Regions from separate parts of the Homo sapiens genome. Here all the other regions are reported to be linked to region 2. The links are microRNA targets in miRTarBase. Many come from high-throughput screens and were not tested one by one. Region 2 holds a microRNA gene; each other region holds the end of a gene's coding sequence. Distances are between the middles of the regions.

Evidence for each region. Region 2 holds the annotated microRNA hsa-miR-665 (ACCAGGAGGCUGAGGCCCCU, at 1,239-1,258, shown strand). A microRNA usually pairs through its seed, bases 2 to 8, with sites in the 3' UTR of a target mRNA and lowers its output. Matches are read on the target gene's strand: a 7mer-m8 pairs with bases 2 to 8, a 7mer-A1 pairs with bases 2 to 7 and ends in A, and an 8mer does both.
Region 1: miRTarBase lists AHCYL2 as a target of hsa-miR-665. Seed matches in the 3' UTR shown: 7mer-m8 at 1,569-1,575 and 7mer-m8 at 662-668.
Region 3: the mRNA of VASH1 is a reported target of hsa-miR-665. Seed matches in the 3' UTR shown: 7mer-m8 at 3,375-3,381 and 7mer-m8 at 3,628-3,634.
Region 4: the mRNA of SLC15A1 is a reported target of hsa-miR-665. The part of its 3' UTR that is shown has no 7-base or 8-base seed match.
Region 5: miRTarBase lists ZFP62 as a target of hsa-miR-665. The part of its 3' UTR that is shown has no 7-base or 8-base seed match.

Annotation. Positions count from the first base shown.
Region 1 is chr7:129,426,202-129,430,255 of GRCh38, reverse strand. It overlaps AHCYL2 (adenosylhomocysteinase like 2), which reads right to left. Exons shown (of 17, transcript NM_015328.4): 16 at 3,693-3,813; 17 at 45-3,217. The coding sequence ends at 3,211. Among named protein-coding and RNA genes, the nearest start is that of STRIP2, 6.2 kb to the left of the region's middle.
Region 2 is chr14:100,873,837-100,877,903 of GRCh38, forward strand. It overlaps MIR665 (microRNA 665), which reads left to right and starts at 1,197; the gene lies at 1,197-1,268. It overlaps MIR337 (microRNA 337), which reads left to right and starts at 657; the gene lies at 657-749. RefSeq lists an enhancer at 1-5 and a silencer at 3,359-3,569.
Region 3 is chr14:76,778,165-76,782,218 of GRCh38, forward strand. It overlaps VASH1 (vasohibin 1), which reads left to right. Exons shown (of 7, transcript NM_014909.5): 7 at 782-4,054. The coding sequence ends at 854. VASH1-AS1 (VASH1 antisense RNA 1) reads right to left here. Exons shown (of 2, transcript NR_104184.1): 2 at 3,569-4,054. Among named protein-coding and RNA genes, the nearest start is that of VASH1-AS1, 6.5 kb to the right of the region's middle.
Region 4 is chr13:98,681,379-98,685,432 of GRCh38, forward strand. SLC15A1 (solute carrier family 15 member 1) reads right to left here. Exons shown (of 23, transcript NM_005073.4): 23 at 2,423-3,537. The coding sequence ends at 3,346. Among named protein-coding and RNA genes, the nearest start is that of SLC15A1, 69 kb to the right of the region's middle.
Region 5 is chr5:180,845,367-180,849,420 of GRCh38, reverse strand. It overlaps ZFP62 (ZFP62 zinc finger protein), which reads left to right. Exons shown (of 2, transcript NM_001172638.2): 2 at 1-1,810. The coding sequence ends at 629. Among named protein-coding and RNA genes, the nearest start is that of ZFP62, 14 kb to the left of the region's middle.

The DNA of each region.
Region 1 (4,054 bases), not on the chromosome of region 2:
TCTCTGAATTTCTAGTTCACAGAAACAAGAAATACCCTTAAGAGTCCATGTTAAGAATATTTTATTTGTTTTTTGAGATTACATAGTCATTATTGCTGATCTAATACAATCACTTAGACATAAAGATTTCCAAGAACTTCTCAGAAATGGTGATCTTTAGAAGTGTTATTCCTTTCAGTAAGATGACAGAACTAGATGATTACGTATATAGATATATAGATATATATATATATATGTATATATAGAGTTTAGAACCTGTCCACATATAATTTGCTGGTGTTGCCTATTTTCCTTCCGTAATTTTCCTTTATTGAAAAAGCTTAATGCAACAATGCATTTTGATTCCTTTTTAAAAACCACGGCAAAGTTAATTTTGAGAAAACCACAGGAGCAGCAATATCAGATCTGTTTAGAGAAAAGCGAAGCAGCATAAAAGCTTTGCAGGAGTATGTGGCCATGGGGAGCCGTGCTCATATGGGCAAGTAGGATAGGGAGGGAGGAGAGCAGAGGGAAGGTAGAGTAGATACATTTTTTTTCTTTGTTTAAATGAAAAAAAGAAAACTGAATATCTCCATTAAGAAGGCAAAAAAGTGCCAGGCACGGTAGCACACACCTGTGGTTCCAGCTACTCAGGAAGCTGAGGCAGGAGGATTGCTTGAGCCCAGGAGTTTGAGACCAGCCTGGGCAACATAGTGAAACCCTGTCTCTAAGGGTGAAAAGAAAAGAAAGAAAGAAGGCAAAATATTAGCACAGATTCATTGTAGAGAAAATGTTATGTATCCTCACAGACTGGAGCCACATACAAAGAGATAAGTAGCCTTCTTTCCCATGCTTCCAGATAACCAGGATGCATCTAAGGTAAGAGGTTGGAGGAAAGAAGACACATTGCTCTGATTCCAAGGGTAGAGGGAATAATGACCAGATTTCAACCCTAAGATAGAACCCAAATACTTGGGAGGCTTGTGGTTCTTTCTTCTTAATGGTTGATAACACAGTGTCCCTACAGAGAGGTCATCTGAAACTCAGAGGCAAATAACTCATCATGGGCAGCAACACTGGCAACCTAACTTAGAAGCCCCGTGTGGCCCCTTTTTTATTTGGAGTGGGTCTCTTCACTACAGCAAGGCAGAATGTACTCTTTAAGTACCAGCACATAGTAAGCTCCAGAGAGCAAGGCTTTGCTGAGAAACAGCAGGTTATGATTTTTGGTCTAAGAATACAATAGGCTAGAGACCATCTATCTGCCAAATGGAATCTGCTCTGGATATAAGATAAGGTACAAAGATCTGAATCCCTTGCTAAAGGGAACCAATTAATACAAAAATCAGGACTAGGTAGGCAAAAGGAAGAACTGAATGGCTTAGTGGAATTTTTAGCATTTATGATCTTCCTTACAAAAAAAGAATATAACCAGTACTTGCTGAGACATATGGCCTCTGAAGAACTGTAGTCTATGGGCTGAGCCTGTATACTATTAAATGAGGCAAACAGTCATTTACCAAAGTTCCACTTCCCTACTTCCGAAAGTAAGGTCACTTTCAGACTAGCTTTGAGAGTATATGTGAAGACCAGGAGAAGTTGGAGAGGGTAGAGGTAGAAGAAGAGAATCAGGATGGGAAGGTTTTGGTGATCATGCGTGGTCTGGTGTTATCTTGAGTCACCTTGGTCTTGAGACTTTGAGGCAGACCAGCATAGGAAAAAAGTGGGAAACAAACAAACCTGAGAGTGTTAAAAAGGATCGGTAAGGGGAAGAGGCTTATTTAATTCAAGTTTCCTAGGGCCAGTCCAGACTAACTCTTAGAACCAATCTGGTCCTAATGAAATGCCTGAGACCAACAGATCAGTCTCCAAAAGGAATCCAATTTTTGGGTGGGACATAAAATGTCACGCTGCCCACACCACATTACTAATTCTTTTTGTAGCACTGGAGTTACTCAAGAAACTGACTCTGAAATACAGAATCATCAAATGGAAGAGGTTAAATCATAAAAGATATGCCAGCAGAGAAGTCCACAGATCAGACTGCAGATCTCGGTTTCATCCATGGCAATGGCCAAAGGAATGAATGTCTGACGAGGTTCAAACTAGTCAAATTAGCTTTGATAATCTGGATACAGTTTACAATTTCATCTCTGTATCCCTCAGCCAGTCAAACTGCAATGGCCTTCCTGGGAAACAAATAAATATACTCTGCTTTGTTAGGGTATCAAGCTGTGAGTCTGAAAGACCTGTCCCATTTCCAAAGCCTATCCCCCTAAGTCCCTGGAAAAGTATGCCTTTCCCTACTCAGTTTCAGACGTAGCTTTAGGCAATAGCAGGAAGTTTCAGGAAGCAGTGTTTCACAACAAGCTCTCCTTTTCTGAGATAGTGCCAATCTGGAGGGGCTTCCTTGGAAACTATCCAATCAAATGACAAGGAAGTAAAACTATGGGTCCCAGTGGAGCTGGCCCCACTTCCTGAGCAGACGTTGGCTGGATTAGAAAGACAGCAGAACAAATGTCTGACAAATACCAAAACTGTGGAGGAAATAATGGAGGCACATCCCTCTTGCAACCAGGAAGTGTTAAAATGGACATAAATATTCAAGGAGAAGAAAGGAGTCCTGGGTAAGAAAGGAGACCCCTGGTAGGCACAGCACAGCTGAGTTCTTGATGTAGCTTGGCAAAGCCATAAATAACACTCCTTCCTTATTAGCCTTTATATAAAGAAGGCAGTGATAGTGATGGTCAAGATTGGGAACCCAATCTTGTGTGAAACACTGGCCATGTTAATTCCAAACGGCCTCACCCGGGGAAGGGCCAAGCTGAGAAAAGCAGGTGCTGAAAATTTATTCCAGAAAACTCCAGGGAATAGGGAGTATGGAATCCCTGGACTAACTCGTGAGCCTGGACAAGAGGAAAAACGGCCACTGCTGAGGATTCAGTCAATGGGGAATGATGCAAATGATGCACTGGGAGCAGTAACCCCATTTCTTTCCTTCCTCAGCCCATCCTCTGTGGCTTTCATGGCCCTCAGGGCAGTAACCACACTCTGGGCCAACACTACAGGCACAGGATTCTTGATTTTAATAAATAAATAACCTAACACACAGGGTGAGCACGGCAGGCAGCTTTGATTGGAGAAGCAGCTTGCTGAATTCTTTCTTGTATAGTAGTGGAGAAAAGGCTTGGAGTTCTATTCCTTAAAAATTCTGGTTTGAGTTACAGGAACTTAATACCTGGAGGGAAAAAGAAAGATGAGACTGTGATGTTATCAGCTAATGGGGATGCTGGGACATGAAGAGCCTGCCTAAAGGTGTAACAGGGAGGCAGAGACTTTTCTGGAGTGTACAGTGACAGGAAATAACTGTGTTTCCTTTTCACATCATTGAAAAAGGCCAATATTTCTCCATAAAGAGATAAAAATCATAGCAACAAGATGAAATGGGGAAAGGAATTGAGGAAGGGGAACTTTATTTAATGAGGCAAATAGCCACTTACCCAAACTCCACCTCTCTATCTCCAAAAGGCAAATTCAGGAAGGGGAATACTATTTAAGGCCTTGAAGAGTCTTTTGAAGGTGGCAGTGAGGGGAAGTGGGTTCATTTTTCTGAGTTCATGTAAGCATATGTGGTTGGGGATGCAAAGACCAATTCCAGTGCAGGAAGCTCATCACTGCCCAGGTGTCCCTGATTTCTGGGGAGCCCAAGGCACCTGTAGTAATTAGGCTTGAAGGGCCCATTCTTGTTGAGTCCCAGATACTTGGCCTGTTCATCTGTCAGCTCTGTCAAGTGGGCATCAAAGGTAGGCAGGTGTAGGCTGGCCACATACTCATCTGGAACAGACCACAGAAGCCCTGGTATAAGCATTCATGCCTTTTATCTGATGGCTATTGTCCCCAAGCTAGGCCTTAAAAAGTTCAAAGACACCTTCTAATTCCTGGAGCTGAATGAAAAATGTTCAACCTTCGCTCACTGGTCCTCAATTCTAAGGAATAGCTGCCTTCAGCTTCAAGCCCAGTGCTTTCCAAAGCCTTAATAATTCATCCTTACTAACTCAGCTTTGAACCCTGCCTT
Region 2 (4,067 bases):
ACATACACACAATCCGCCCATTAAAGCTCACAGCGAAGTGTGTTTTAGTTATTCACAGATATCTGCAACTATCACCATAATCAATTTAAGATCATTTTCATCACCCCCAAAAGAACTCCAGAGCCTTCAGCTGTCACCTTCACCCTCCATGCACACCCCCCAGCCCTCAGCAACCAAAAATCTACTTTCTGTCTCTGGGAAATTCTTGAAGTGCCCCTGGACTTCATGAGTCCTCACTGGGTCCCCAGAGGTGCCTGTTGCAACCCATTTCACAGATGTAGAAGGCAAGGCTGGAGAAGTACCAGGGAGTCAAAGCAGTGGGTGGGTGGGGTCGAGTCCCCGATGTCCACTCACAGACCTGGGCCAGAATCAGGCCTGTCTCCCCCTTCACCTCCCCATCCTCCGTCCCTTGGCCTGGCTGCACAGTCACCTGGGGGCTCTGTGGGGCTAAGGGAGGCCCAGGCCCTGGCCATAGGAGGCAGGTAGGGCAAGGCTGGGCAGGGTGGACAGGTACCCCAGCGCTGCAGGTGCCCAGCAGTGGGTGGCACTGCCTAGGCTGGCTGTCCCTTGCTGTCACTGCTCTAACCACTAGCAGCAGGCGTCCCCTCTGCCATCCGAGCGCTTGCACTGCGCTTCCGGGAGGAGGGTTGCGGCCCGTAGTCAGTAGTTGGGGGGTGGGAACGGCTTCATACAGGAGTTGATGCACAGTTATCCAGCTCCTATATGATGCCTTTCTTCATCCCCTTCAACCACGCGCAGCCCCCGGACCCTCCTCTGCACCCTTGGCTGCACGGGGACGCGTCCTCAAGTCCGCTGCTGTCCTGCCAGCCTCTTCCCGGCATGCTCCTTGGGCTCTTCTCTCTCTCTTCTGCAGCTCTCTGACTTCCTGGAGGGGAGGGCCTGGGGCTGGGCCATCTCTGAGGCCCCTCCTTGGCAGGGAACTATGCCCCTGGTGGGACACCCCCTGGGCTGACTCCACAGCCAAGGGCAGATAGGCCGGAGGGGGAGTTGGGTAGCCCTGGGGCTTCTCCCACTGAGGGGCTGGGGCTGTGCTCCCACACAGAGCCCTCCAAAGGGACCCGGCCCACAGGATGGATGGACAGACGTTGGAGAGATGGTGCCCCTTTGTGCCCAGGGTGGAGGGGGTGGGGCTTTGGCGGACCAGGGCTGGCCCTTTCTGTGCCCCAAGAGGAGGGTCTCCTCGAGGGGTCTCTGCCTCTACCCAGGACTCTTTCATGACCAGGAGGCTGAGGCCCCTCACAGGCGGCTTCTTACTCTCTCCTTAAACCTGTTCTGGAGACATTTCCCCTCTCCCCAAGGATTCCCAACTCTGGGTCCCCAGAAGCTGTCAGCTGGGCTCCCTTCTTCCCCTGTGCGTACCCTGCTCAGGCTGGGTACCTGAGGGTGCCCAATGGCAACATGAGCAGGGGGCACGGCCGTGGCCCCTGGTTCTTGGACCTCTGTCTTCTGCCTCTCTGACTAACTCAGGTCCTGTGCATGGCAGAGGTGACCCGCACCAAGCCCTGTGATATTGGCATCATTAACCCCATTAACAAGCCACGACAGCCAGCCCAGGCATGAGCATCGGGGCAGCAGGGCAGCCAGTGTGGGGAGAGAGGCCTTGCAGTAGCTGAGGCCATTAGAGAGGACAAGAGGGTGCAGGAGGGAGCATCCTCACCTCTGCCCTTCCCACTTACATCCCATCTCCCCTTCCTCACCCCTCCTTCCCCATGCACCCCTTCTTCCTGTAGGAGGGAGCACCCTCACCTCTGCCCTTCCCACTCACCTCCCATCTTCCCTTTCTCACCCCTCCTCCCCAATGCACCCCCTCCCTTCCTGCAGGAGGGAGCACCCTCTCCCCTGCCCTTCCTTCCCACCTCCCGTCTCCCCTTCCTCACCCCCGCTTCCCCCATGCACCCGCTCCCTTCCTGGTCTACCCCTCAGCTTCTGTGGTGTCAGGATGGGTATGCTTGTCTTTGTTGATCTCAGACAGGTGGACAGGGGTCTGGACGAGGCTTACTGTTTGGGTCTGAGGTCAGTGCTCATGGGCTTGGGGCATGACAAGGGTCTTGTCGTCCCCGCAGCAGGGCTCTGAGCGGGTGGGTGGAGCTTGGGAGTGGGGGTGATGGCTTCTATTTGTTGTCTTTCTCTTTTTCACTTTGGGAGCAACCGGGGTCACCAGGTGGGCAGGAGGGGACCTCACGTCTCTGCCCTGGGCAGATTGTTAAGAGCTGGTCAAGCTCCTGGCACGGGGGCCTGAGTCCAAGGCCCTAACTGGACCTGGGGCCGCCTGCAGGAGGGATGAGCGAGTCCGGACCCGAGCGGTGAGTAGCCCTCAGCTGCCTGGGTGGTGTGCTGTTGAGTGTTCCAGAAACTGGCCCTGTGTGCACCAGGGCTGGAGGCTGGCACGTTGGGCATCTCATGGGGGTGGGCTGGGTCGGGAAGGGAGGTTGATGGACAAGACTCAGCAGGAGTGGAGCTCAGGGCTCCCTCCATCCCCTGACATCAGTGACCTGGGGGTGGACAGAGAAGGTGGAAGATGGGTGCATTTAGTTGTGGCCCGCCAGGTCCCGTGGGCCTGTGTGCCAGTGTCCGCGCCAGGCTGTGCTGTCTGCTGTTCAGAGGAGTTTTCACCTTTTTTTGTGGTGGCCATGATGTCATAACCCAGCATGACATTTAACATTAACCTTCCTTTTTCTTTCCCCAGGAGAAAAAAAGGTTTGTATTATTTTTCTTTTGAATTTTTTATTTCCATAGGTTTTGGGGAACAGGTGGTGTTTGGTTACATGAGTAAGTTCCTTGGTGGTGATTTGTGAGATTCTCGTGCACCCATCACCTGAGCAGTACACACTGAACCCAGTTTGTACTTTTATCCCTCACCCCCTCCCACCCTTTTCCTGGAGTCCCCAGAGTCCGTTGTATCACTTTATCAGTAGTTCTCCTCTGGGCCTGGGGGCTGCCGCTCTTCTCTGTAAACTAAACCTGCTGTGGCTGGATGGGGCAGGGGAGCCAAGGAGGCGAGGTCCTCACTGTCTGCTGGTGTGGGGGGCCGTGGCCACTCTAGCACCGGGAGCCCCCAGTCAATATGTGTGTGTGTGTGTGAACTGTGGATAAATACGCTTACCTTAGCGCGTGTCTGGATTCCCCCACTGTGGGGCACGGGTGATTACTGCTGGTAAATTCTCTGTTTGGCCTTACCCTGCAAGGTAGTCCTGTTCATCCCTCCACCTTTTTTTTTTTTTTTTCTTGAGACGGAGTTTCACTCTTGTTGCACAGGCTGGAGTGCAGTGGCGCGATCTCAGCTCATCGCAACCTCCGCCTCCCAGGTTCAAACGATTCTCTGCCTCAGCCTCCTGAGTAGCTGGGATTATAGGCATGCGCCACCATACCCAGCTAATTTTTTGTTATTTAGTAGAGACGGGGTTTCTCCATGTTGGTCAGGCTGGTCTCGAGCTCCTGATCTCAGGTGATCCATCTGCCTCGGCCTCCCAAAGTGTTGGGATTACAGGCGTGAGCCACTGCACCCGGCCTTGCCCCTCCATCTTTGATGGCCAGGAGGAAAGGATGGCGGTCGTCGACGGTCCTGGCTGCAGGGACACGGGGACTGCCAATCCACCCCACATTTACCCAAGGAGCCCTTACCAAGCAGGGACAGAGATTTGCCATTAAAATCCAGCCTCTGGGACCCCCCAGGGGTGGCCTTCAGGAGACCTGATCTAGGGACCCTCCATTATGACCCCAGGCTCTATCCCAAGGTAGTTTACTTCAAGGGACTTGGGAGCCCCAAGAAGAATGTCATCTGGGAACAGAGGGGGTTTTAGGAGCCAGCGGCCCTTGGAGACTGGGTCTGGTTATTCTGGAAATGACCCTCCCTCTCACTACATCCCCCATTTGATGATGGGAAAACAGGCTGGAAGATGGACAGCCACTACCTGAGGTCACCCAGCAAGTCAAAGTTGGGGCCTTCTGGGGCCAGGTCACTAAAGGGGATCTGCACCTCTTGCAGCTGAGCCCCTGGCCTTAACCCATGGCAGCCTGTCTTGGGCTGCCATCAGAGGCAGAGTGCT
Region 3 (4,054 bases), 24 Mb from region 2:
CCCTTCTCTCTTTTTCGCTCCCACCCAAGGGAGGTGACTTGGGATGGTGGGTTTAGAGGTTTGTGTATTGACATTTCCCACAGCAAGGCAGTTCTACTTCCCCAGAGAAACCAAACTCTGCTAGCCCACTAGTCTGAGCATGGGTTATGTGAGAGAAAAGGTAGAAAGGATGGGGCCCCTGCAAGGCAGTGAGCCACCCAGGAATGTCATGGGGGAGGGCGTGAATATTAGATGGCTTTGAACATAACTTTGCCCCCCACCCAAGAGTCTGGTTTTTGTCTGTATCCAGGTAGCAAGAACAAGCCATTGAAATACCAGCTCTCCTCCTCTGATTTCAGCTCCTACACATCACTCTGACTCTTGCTTTAAATATAATTGTCATTCAGGAGCCACCTCTCTGGTATGAATTCAGGGGTGGGGTACTAAGCAGGCCTCTGGCACCAAAATATCCATCATCTGTGACTTTTATCTAAGAGGCTTTTGTAGATGACAGATTCCCCTCAGACAGATTTATACTTTAAGCTGTTACCTACCAACTGCAGCCAGATTAGCCAGCCTCCAGCAGCGAGAAAGCCTGTGAGAGCGAGCCGGGGCCACATTCAGACAGCACAGGCGGGCCAGGGTGTCCAAAAACACACTTCCATACGCACTGTGCTGTGCGTTGGAGGGCCACTTGGAGAATGTGGCGGGGAAGCCACCAGGCAGCCGCTGCTGGCTCCCCAACTCCATCTCCCTAACAGACCACTCACTCTCCTCCCGCTCTGCTCTCTTCCTCCCACAGGCCCTCGGGTGACAAGAAGACTTCCGAGCCCAAAGCCATGCCAGACCTTAACGGGTACCAGATCCGGGTCTGAGGCGGATGCCAGCACCCCAGGCCCCACCCACTCTTGGGGGCCAGGATCCACCTGCTGGAACCAGCCTTATGCATGGGGAAGGCGGGGCTGGTGACAAGGCAGGGCAAGAGGCTGCAGGAAGAGTGTGTTCCAGCTCAGCCCCCCAAGCTGCTCTCGCTCCCACTGAGCCAAGCCCCCTAACTTTGGGCCTAGAGGCCGTTAGTATTTTATTTGGAGTTTTTAACTCTACAACTGAAGTTTAAGGTATTTGGGGAAAACTTAGTCCAAATGGATCTGCTGATGGTGGGAAGGCCAGTGCTTAACAAATCCATGTGTCATGGGGCCAGGTGAGGGAAACTGCTGGTTCTGCTGGTGCCTCTGCCCCTGGCTTCTCTCTGGGAGTTGGGTGCATCTTATCAGTGGGAAATCTCCCAGCCTTACCAGGCCTGTGATGGGGGGTGGGGGTGGGGTGGAGATGTTTCTCCAGTTCTGCCTGCCCTGGCAGAATCTTGACCCAGGGAAAGGGAAGCAGGGTAGGAGTCCTTCTGAGAAAGGTCTGTGTAGCCCATTAACCAGGAGCTTGGCACAGGCCACATCTGCCCCAAGAGCATGAGCTCGTGGCTCAGGAGAGCCTTCAGGCCCTTGAGGCCCCCATGGGCAGTGCTGTGTGGGCAGAGGAGGGGTGATATGAGAGCGAGCCCAGGGAAGGACCTCTGGGCAAAAAGTTCCCAGGCCCTAACTGCGTCTACTTGCTCAGTCCCAGCTCTGCCTGTTGCTCTAGCCCACAGGCTCCCTGCGGAGGGTCTGGGCTTGGCGGAGGACCCAGAATGGCACTGAGGCCAGCATGGCTGTGGGAGTTGAGCAAACCCTGGGTGCCAGTCCAGGAGCTGTGGCTGGACATGGGGTGATGGGGCGGGATGCTTGGGCCTGGGTCTCTCCGCCAGCAGTGCCAGGAGCCCTTGCTGGGGAAATCAAGACCAGACTAGGATGCTTCTGCCCCAGGCCTGCCTTCCATTCTTTAACAGCCCATCTTGGCTTGGGGTTGCAATGATGGCTGGGCCAGTCACTTGTGGCAGGGCATCAGGGCCCTGGCAGGGAAGAACCTAGGCACCTGGGGTTGTCCCCAGCCTGCCCGTCAGCATGAGATACCCAGTGGGAAAGTGAGAGGATGCGGAGAGGTTGGCAGAGCCAGGGGTAGGTTCTGGAGGCTCAAGCAACAAGGAGGTGCAGGTAAAGGGTGCAGTGCAGCCACTGAGGGACAGCTGGGAACTGGGGGATGCAAGTGAGAAAGGGATGTGGGGGAGAGTTCAGGATCAGGCTGCTTGAGGAGTAATGGGTTACCTACAGCAGAGACGAGATGGCTGTTTGTCAGGAGGCGGTAGAAAGGTAGAAAGGATTCAGATTGTGGAAGGGTAAACGGATGAGATGACCATTAAGGTTTTGTTTTACTGAGAGGCTGTAAGTCTGCCAGGGACAGCTGTCAGTAAGGCTGCAGAAGGGCTGGGGGGCTACACAAGGAAGAGCAGAACTAGGGTTGTAAGCTCAAATGACGAGCAAACGGTGAGAAGGAGGCCTGAAGGGCTGTGTGGGGACTATGGCTACCTGAAGAGGGCACACCCTGTTAAAGGGGCCACAGCTGCTCAGCTGTTCTTACAGTGCCGGCCCTGTGTTGCCAGATTGTCTGCTTTGTCAGAGGCCAGAATTCTGACTTTTTATGTGAAATAGGATTTTTAAATGCTGGTGATCACTTAAAAAAAACTTAAAAACCCAATACTGGCAAAAGAGGATGCCAGTTTGCAATCCCTGAAGTAGAGAGAGCTCGTGCTGGGGAGAAGTCCACCAAGATGCTTTGAGGCGGGCTGTAGCAAAGTCCTGTTTCTCAGAGCTGGGCTGGGCTGGGGTAGGATCCTTGCAGCTGAGGAGGAGGAAAAGCCACTGAGTCTCCTCCCAGAGCGGGACAAACCAGAGGCCCTTTGCAGTTGCTGGGTCACCAGCGGGGGTGGCGCATGGAGTACAGACAGTGTAGCTCTTGGCCTGCCAGGGAGACGGATGGTGCCTTTGAAGCAAAGAGGAAGGGAAGGCAGAACCAGGGATGCCTTTGCTGATGAGAGTGCCTGTCAGGGAAGGCGCCACAGGCTGGCAGCTCTTCAAACCAGCAGCGCTTGACCCAGAGCCAGATCCAGCATGGCCTGGCCAGAGGCACCCTGGGAGGCCAGCTGGTCAGTCCCTTGCCTCCCCAAGTTCCCCCTGGGGTCAATGAGCCCTGGGAGGATGCCTAACCTAACTCCAGCCAGACTAATAGGGGCATGGTGACCCTTGACTCACCATCCCATCCCAGCTTTCAGGGAGTGGGGGTAGTGTGGTCTCCATGTTCCTACTATGCCTAAGAAGAGATGGCTCACCTTGGGAGGTGCCAGGCTGAAACTAGGTCCTTTCCGGGTCTGGATGCTGCCGCTCAGGAGCAGGGGCGTGGCCTCAGCTGCCTCTGGGAGCTTCCCGGGAATGACAGGGTTTGAGGGGAGTAGATATGAGAGGGAGCCGCTCCTGGTTCTGGAGTCTTAGGAGGTTCCAACTTGCAGGATCCTTTCCCAGAGCCCTCCATGGAGAAAACAGCAAAATGAAGCCCTTACCTGCTTGCTGTCTGCAAGGGAGGGAGCCGAGCCCCAGCTGATAATCCCCCAGCACTCACCCTTCCTGAGCTGAGACTTCGGGGCTGTGGAGACCAGCACAGGACATAGTGGTGCTTTTTAAATTTATTTTTAACTGTTTCTCATATGTAGCAACCCCTCCTCCCCTCCTGGGCATGTTTACACAGGCTCTGCTCTGGGGGCTGGCCTGGCTGTGAGGTTTCTGGGGAGGCAGAGAGGCAGGGACTTTGGGGCCTTAGTCACCATCCATGGTATCACCTCATCTCACTTCCTGTGAGGGACAGGGCCTGGCTGATGTGATCCCAGCTCCCCCCAGTTCAGGACTGTCTTTCAGCTCCTTTGCCCCTGGAGGTGGGGGCTGCTGGCTGAGGAGGGGTCAAGGTGAGTTCAAGAAAGCTACCTGTGGAAAATGGACCAGGTTGGGGGGGTGATTGCAAAGTCTCCCCAAAGCCTGGCTCCTCATGCTCAGTGCCAGGGGCAGAACACTGGGGAGCCAGGTATAGAGAGCCTTCCTGTCATAACTGCCAGTCCTCTTCCTCCAAGGCCTCTGCATATTCTCATGTTCCCCTCACC
Region 4 (4,054 bases), not on the chromosome of region 2:
GTTACTCACACGCAAAGAACACTATGTGTTAATATCAGACTTGGTTGAGGGGCATGACAACGACCTTCATTCAAATATATGAATGCCTGTTGTGTGCCAGGCACCCTTAAACAAAGGATTTATTTTTTTATTTTTATTTTTATTTTTCTTGAGACGGGGTCTCACTCTGTTGCCCAGGCTGGAGTGCAGTGATGCGATCTCGGCTCACTGCAACCTCCGCCTCCCGGGTTCAAGTGATTCTGCTGCCTCAGCCTCCCGAGTAGCTGGGATTACAGGTATGTGCCACATGCCTGGCTAATTTTCGTATTTTTAGTAGAGATGGGGTTTCACCATGTTGGCCAGTCTGGTCTCAAATTCCTGACCTCAAGTGATCCACCCGCCTCGGCCTCCCAAAGTGCTGGGATTACAGGCGTGAGCCACTGGACCCAGCCAAACAAAGGATTTTTAAGGCCTCACATTGTCTGCCTGGTATTCTCTTTATTTCACAGGAGAGGAAATGATTAAAAAGATCAAAACCTGCCCAAACTTATACTGCAACTATAAGAGTGGAGCACTAGGGCTGGGTGCTGTGGCTTATGCCTGTAATCCCAGCACTTTGGAAGTCTTAAGCCCAGGAGTTCGAGACCAGCCAGTGAGACCCTGCCTTTACAAAAAAAATTAAAAACTTAGCTGGGTGTGGTGGCACAAGCCTGTAGTCCTAGCTACTTGGGAGGTTGAGGTGAGAGGATCCCGTGAACCTAGGAGTTCAAGGTTGCAGTGAGTTATGATCGTGCCACTGCACTCCAGCCTGGATAACAGAGTAAAAACTTGTCTCTTAAAAAAAAAATTAAAAATTAAAAAACAAATAGAGGATTACTATGTTCTGGAGACTGAACAGTGAACAAGATATACAGAAGAGCTTTTGGTCTAGGAAAAGCTAGATAGTGATGATCCACTGAGGTCTGTGCAACTTGAAAATGTGAAGCTGTGTTATGGGAGCTCAGAGCAGGGCCACAGCCTAGCATGGGAGGGAGGGAGGACAGGAAAACTCTTGGAGGACATGGCATGAAAATGAAGAGGGCTTAGCCAGGTGGAGGGGTTGGGGGTGGTGGAAATTAAGTATCTTGGGGTATTCTTTTTCTTGCCTTTTGACTTGGGAATGAGAATGTGATGTGTTCCAGGAAGGAGCAGCAGCTCCATGCTGGCAGGATCAGAGTGCATGGAGAGAAAGGAAGTGTGTCCAGAGGGAAAAAGAGCCTCATGGCCCCTAGTTAAGGAATTAGGACTCGATCCCAAGGCTAGAAAAAGTGTTAAGATTTGATAATCACATTATGTTTCTCACTCTGGACTTTGAGTCTCCCCTTCAATGCAGCCCCTATGGTGCAATGGCGAGCTTGTATATAAGCATTTTAGAGGCCAAATGCGAACTCTTCCTTCTAATGCAGGAACCAGTTTCAATCATCAGAGTTGCGCACTAGTTTGTCTAAGAACTGTGGCTTGTTTGTGTAGGAGTGCCAAGGTAGACTCATTCTGGACCTGATACCTGGGATGGCTAAATGATAAACATCTCTAGGATAAATTAGGCATTAGGTGTTTAAAATGTTTTAGAAGAATTTTTACGCCAGCAGGAAATGTTTGTGAGTATCGAGAAAAACACTAGGAGATGGTACACAAATGTGCACATAGGACGGTCCTAGTAATATAAGTCTCTCCTATCTATCTATCTAATCTATCTATCATCTACCTGCCTACCTACCTACCTACATTTATCTATCTATCTATCATCTATCTACCAACCTACCTGTATCTATCCATCATCTATCGATCTATCTATCTTCTTCTTTTTTTTTTTTTTTGAGATGGAGTCTTGCTCTGTCGCCCAGGCTGGAGTGCAGTGGTGTGATTCCAGCTCACTGCAAGCTCCGCCTCCCAGGTTCACGCCATTCTCCTGCCTCAGCCTCCCCAGTAGCTGGGACTACAGGCGTCTGCCACCACACCCAGCTAATTTTTTATATTTTTAGTAGAGATGGGGTTTCACCGTGTTAGCCAGGATGGTCTTGATCTCCTGACCTCATGATCCACCCGCCTCTACCTCCCAAAGTGCTGGGATTACAGGCGTGAGCCACTGTGCCCGGCCTATCTATCTATCTTCTATCTACCTACCTACCTTTATCTGTTTGTCTGTCTATCTATCTATCGATCATCTACCTACCTACCTTTATCTGTTCATCTATCTATCTAATCTATCTATCTATCATCTATCTATCTGCCTATCTACCTTTCTTTATCTGTTTGTCTGCCTATGTATCAATCAACCAATCAATCAATCATCCCTGGGGAAAACAGGACCAGGAAGAAATTTTAATGAGCAGGTGCTGCTTTTATAATCAGATAGGATGTTAAAGATTTCTTACCCTACCCAGAGATACATGAACACTTAGGCTTAAGAACAGAAATTTATTTCACACCATTGAAACTTCAAAAAAATCATTACTGGCCTTCACCTGAGCTGTCTTTCGAGTTATCCATAATTTAAACACAGGTAGGGACTAGAAAAACAAAATAACAAAAACCCAAAGGTAAAGTTATCAGTTAATACCAGCTGGTCCTTATCACAGCCATTTCAAACCTGTACGTTCACTTTTGGCCTTGGCTCCTGCCTCCTTTAGAATAGTTTTCGTAAGAGTATTAGAAATGAACAGTATGGAATAGGAAACTTTGTTACCATTTCAAAATTAAGCTAGTCCAAAATAACATCATTTGTGTGATAGGGAAGATGACCAATGTGGGGTGGGCTCACAGTACTCTAAGACAGTGTGTGTACGTGTGGCTTAAATAAGCCTTTCAAACAGAAGACTTCTTCCAGAGTTTTAGATTCACTGCTGGCTGCTTAGAAAATAGCGTTCACGGCCGGGCGCGGTAGCTCAAGCCTGTAATCCCAGCACTTTGGCAGGCCGAGGTGGGCAGATCACCAGGTCAAGAGATCGAGACCATCCTGGCCAACATGGTGAAACCCCATCTCTACTAAAAATACAAAAATAGCTGGGCGTGGTGGTGCATGCCGCTAATCCCAGCCACTCGGGAGGCTGAGGCAGGAGAATTACTTGAACCTGGGAGGCGGAGGTTGCAGTGAGCTGAGATCGTGCCATTGCACTCCAGCCTGGACAACAAGAGCAAAACTCTGTCTCAAAAAAAAAAAAAAAAAAAAAAAGAAAAGAAAAAGAAAAAAGAAAATAGCATTCATGGTTTAGTTCCCAATTCTGAAGTCTTCCTCATCAGGGGCCATCCAATGGAGTGTCCTGCTACCTGGGGGCAGAGGTCAGGGCATCTGCGGGCCCAGTCCATCCTCCACTTGCCTCCTGACCTTCACATCTGTTTCTGTGAATTGGCCCCTGACATGAAATATGGGTTACTCTTTTCCAGTCTGTTTTTCTTTTCATCCTCATCAAATTGAGCTTCGATCTCCGCTGGGTTGATGTAAGTATAGAACCGAGCCATGATGGCAAAAATTACACAGACGACCAGAAGCAACGCGGCAAATAGAATGTACTCGGCCCACTTTGAAGAAATCAGAGTTGGAGCAGGAAAAAGAACAAAAATAAAACAGGTCATACTGATGAATATATGGTGCGTACATGTTCTTGCTACATGCAGATGGAGAGTGCTTTGAAATTAAATTATGGAAAATTGGTAAGCAACCAATACAGATACAGTAAGCCCAGCTTTTCTGGAATGCCCAAGATAGATAGATGCTAATATAGACAACATGTTTTGAACAGCACTAAGGTACAGAAACAACAGACTTTGGGAAGATGAGAGAAAATTTCTGAAATACTGAAGCCTTAAGACATGTGGCTGGACCTGGAAGGATGGGGACCAAGAGAACAGCAAGCAGTCCCCACAAGGGAAAAATGAATATGCTGAACTCCAGCAAGTTAAGAGCCCCACGTTCCTCCTTGGAAACACCTGGAGCTCATAAGCACACAGCATTAGCACATCTGCTGCTGGGACCTGGTGCAGGAAGTCATGAAACGGATGGGATAACAGCTCCCTTATGAGGCAGACATGCTACAGT
Region 5 (4,054 bases), not on the chromosome of region 2:
AGAGTACCCACCCTGGCAGGACACCCCATACATGTGATGAATGTGGAAAAGCTTTTTTCTCAAGCAGAACTCTTATAAGCCATAAAAGAGTCCATCTTGGGGAGAAACCCTTCAAGTGTGTTGAGTGTGGGAAATCTTTCAGTTACAGCTCTCTCCTTTCTCAGCACAAGAGGATCCACACAGGGGAGAAACCCTATGTGTGTGATAGGTGTGGGAAGGCCTTCAGGAACAGCTCAGGCCTCACAGTGCATAAAAGGATCCACACAGGTGAGAAACCCTATGAATGTGATGAGTGTGGGAAGGCATACATCTCACACTCAAGTCTTATCAATCATAAAAGTGTCCACCAGGGGAAGCAGCCCTATAATTGTGAGTGTGGGAAATCCTTCAATTATAGATCAGTCCTTGACCAGCACAAAAGGATCCACACTGGAAAGAAGCCATACCGATGTAATGAGTGTGGTAAGGCTTTTAATATCAGATCAAATCTCACCAAGCATAAAAGAACCCATACTGGAGAGGAATCTTTAAATGTGATATATGTGGGAAGTTATAGTGGCACATCCCAGAAGAGAACCTATGAGGGAGGGAATGCCCTGGATGGGGGCAGGATGAGGATGCCTCTGTAGCAGGCAGAGCTTACCAAGTCTCTCCGAACTCAAATGGAAGAAATACCTTATGAATGTAAGAATGTAGGGGGTCATGGCTTGTAATTTACACAGTGTAAATGAAACCATCCTAGAGGATTATGAGGAATCCTTTCTATGTGATTTTCAATCATAGCAAGCAAGAAAGGCTCCAGTGTCAAGGTAGTTCAGCTCTTACAGGATATAAAACAGTCCATACTTGAGAGAAAAACTTAGATCTGAGTGATGGAATGTGAAGCAAATCTTCAAAATCAGTAGACATTTCTGGACATAAAACACAGATGAGGAAAGGGCTTCAATTAGAAGTTACGTAATCACCATCAGAAAGTTCATGTTTGGTAAATTCTGTTACTAGAAATGTAGGAAATTCAGGTATAGCTTTGAATCCCAATTACACATTGGTCAGTGGGAAAACTAAGGGCCTCCAACAGGCAAATTCAGGGAGGATAGGTTTCAGGGAATATAAATTTATTTAATATTAGTGGTCTTTAAGTATAAACTTGATGTAATTGGTTTGGGAGGGGGCAGTGATGATGACTTCTGAAACAAAATTTGGATTTCCTTTTAGGAAAAGTAGAAAGCATAGACTTACAAGTCTAACAGGAGATAGGAGAGAGTCACTCATAAAAAATGCAAATTGATGAACGTACTATTGTGATACATTAGTTGAATGGATGAAACTTTTTTAAAGTTTCAGATGAACTCCCATAATGAATGATGAATTTGTGATGAGGGATAACCTGGAAGTGGTATTCACACATTATGCTACAATAAAAGGTTCTACCGTGGAGAGGATTTTGACACATTCAGTAACTAATGGAACACACCGTCAACATGAATTCGCACCTTACATGACAGAAGTGATTCAGGGATTCCTATGAATAGAAATGCTGAGAAGGAACGCATTTTATTGCAGAAGCTAAAAAGCTAAAGTACCAGTCATCTAGAGAGAAGGAAATTAATGTTTCTTAATAATCCTGTTAAATGTTTGATTGTTTTTGGAATGTGTTATTGTAAAGATGTCATGCAGGACATGTATATGTTGTCTGTTGTAAAATGTTAACGAATACTTTGTTCAGGGCTCACTCTCTCTTTGTCATGAAAGCCAGCTCCTTGTGGCGAGGTAAAGTGGAATTCCAATAAAGAAATTCCTTAAATCAAAACGGGCTGTGAGTTTAGATGGAGGATACCCAAGAGCCATTTGTGTGCCAGATCTTTGTTGGGTAAGTTATACCAGATCCAAACCAGAGAGGGTAGTAGACTCATCCCACAGGGCTAGCAGCTCAGCTGGTTTCACCAGAAGTTAGAAGGTGCCTCCCTAGGAGGAGCACAGGATAGATTTTGAGGGGACCACAGTGGAGCCATGTGATCGTCGTTACTGGGCCAGATCCTAACTCGGGAGCAGGTAGGTTGTGTGAGTGATCAGTCACCACACACAGCTCTGTCAGGAACATGTAGAATTGAACATAAACTACTGCTGTGTATGAAGCTGTTAACTAGGTAACTCAAAGGGTAAAAATAGACTCTTCTGAGAATTGAGTAACCTGTCTGAGAATACTGTGAGTGGGCCAATCAGCAAAGGCTGAATTTGAAGTCTGGTATCTGGTTTCAAAACCCATTGTCTTTACAAGAGAACAATCTCAGCCATGTAGTTTCCCATCTCCTTCTGGGACTCCTATCTCTGTAGCCAGATAGTTTCCATGCTCTTTCTAGGAGTATATTTGTTTCACTTTGTATCCAAACCCCTACCAGTAAGTTTTGATGGCTGCGGTGGGGAAGGGTGGAGTTGAGGGAGGAAAGGGAGATGGAGCATTTCTACCACTGCTCCACTTGGACTGTTCTGATCATACTTGCTCTCTATCCTCCTTTGCACATGACACTGGCAAGCCTGACCCTATACACAGACTTGGACTGATTTATTCAGCAAATACTTGAGGATCTACTAGGCACTGTCCCTGTCCCAGGTACTGGGTGGGAGAGGATGGCAGCAGGAGTAGATTCTGGTAGATGAGGATGAATAAAGGGAGAAAGGCTGTGAGCACAACCACCCTAATGGATGAATTAAGACTGCAGGTGCTCAGAGGACAGCGACTAGGACCAACCAAGAGGGAGGAATTGGTGACATCTGGGCAGGACGTTGAATTGGGTTTTCTGAGAGGAGTAGGAACTAGGATGACCTGAGTAAAGGCAGCTACGGAAGTGCCCAGGCATCCTCCAGCAAGGCTGGTCTCTGGCAGGGCTGATGTGTGGGCAGGAAGGAGGGTGCCATGGAGTACTCGTTCCCCGTAGTCGTGGGGACATGGATTGGGCTTCTTTTTGCTGAAGATGAGACCAGCTTTGGTTGTTTTTAACCTGAGGTTTCCATGTGCTCCTCACACAGGAGAGCTCCCGTACTTGAGCTCCAGCTGAACCTAATGCACTGTCTACTTTTGGGGAGATGCAGGCTAAATAACAAAGGAGAGGATGGCCACAGCTCAGGTGGGGATTCTGAGTGCCTCAGCCCCACTAAGCACCAGACAAGCTCCTACTGCGGCCCCCATCTACTCGCATGCTCCAGAAATGGGCCCAGGTCCTCAAGTGTACCTACAGCCAGATACAAGCCATTCAGGCTGATCCCAGACATGGTGGGGTCTCCCTTGTAGCACAGACCCAATGAACTGGTGCGGCTGAGCCTGCTCAGACCAGGGATGGAACATGGTTTAGGCACCACCCCCGGTTCCTTCCAGAGAACGATATGCAAGTGGGAAAAATAAAGGGGGAGGGAAAAGCGGGGAGGAGAAAGAGAAAAGAAAAGCCTGAAAAAACAGTGAGTATGGAATAGCCTTCCATAGGAGTGCATGTCTCTATTAGCAAATTTGTCTGAAGGTGAAAGCCTGGAAAATAATTTCATGTTTTGTGTATGAAGACACTGGGCGTGAAACGGTACTGAACACCAATCCTGCAATGCAGGGGAATTTTCCTCCGTGGGATTCAGAAATGAGAGGATCACCACCAGGACAACACCTGAAGATGGTGTTAGCTGAAGGCAGACATTGGGGACCTGAAGTCTGTCTGCATCAAGACCTTGAGTAATTGGCCACAGCTGTACCCAAGGAGTTCCTGGGCTGGGGAGACCCTTCATTTCTCTTCTCCAGCTTCAGCTAAAGGCCTAGAGACATGGAGAAGGAAGCAGAATACAGTACTTCAATTGTCTTCCTACTGAGGAGCCATTCTCATTTAGACCTGGCGGTTCTCAGGTCTGGATAGTGTCATTGTGCGAAGGAAGCCGTTTGCATGAAACCTGTGTAGAGTCAGTGAAGTATAGTGGCCGAGGACATGGTCTCCACAAGGAAGCCTGAGTTCAAATAAGGACTTTCACTTATTTCCAGATGACTTTAGGCAAGTAACTAAACTTGTGTGTCCTCACG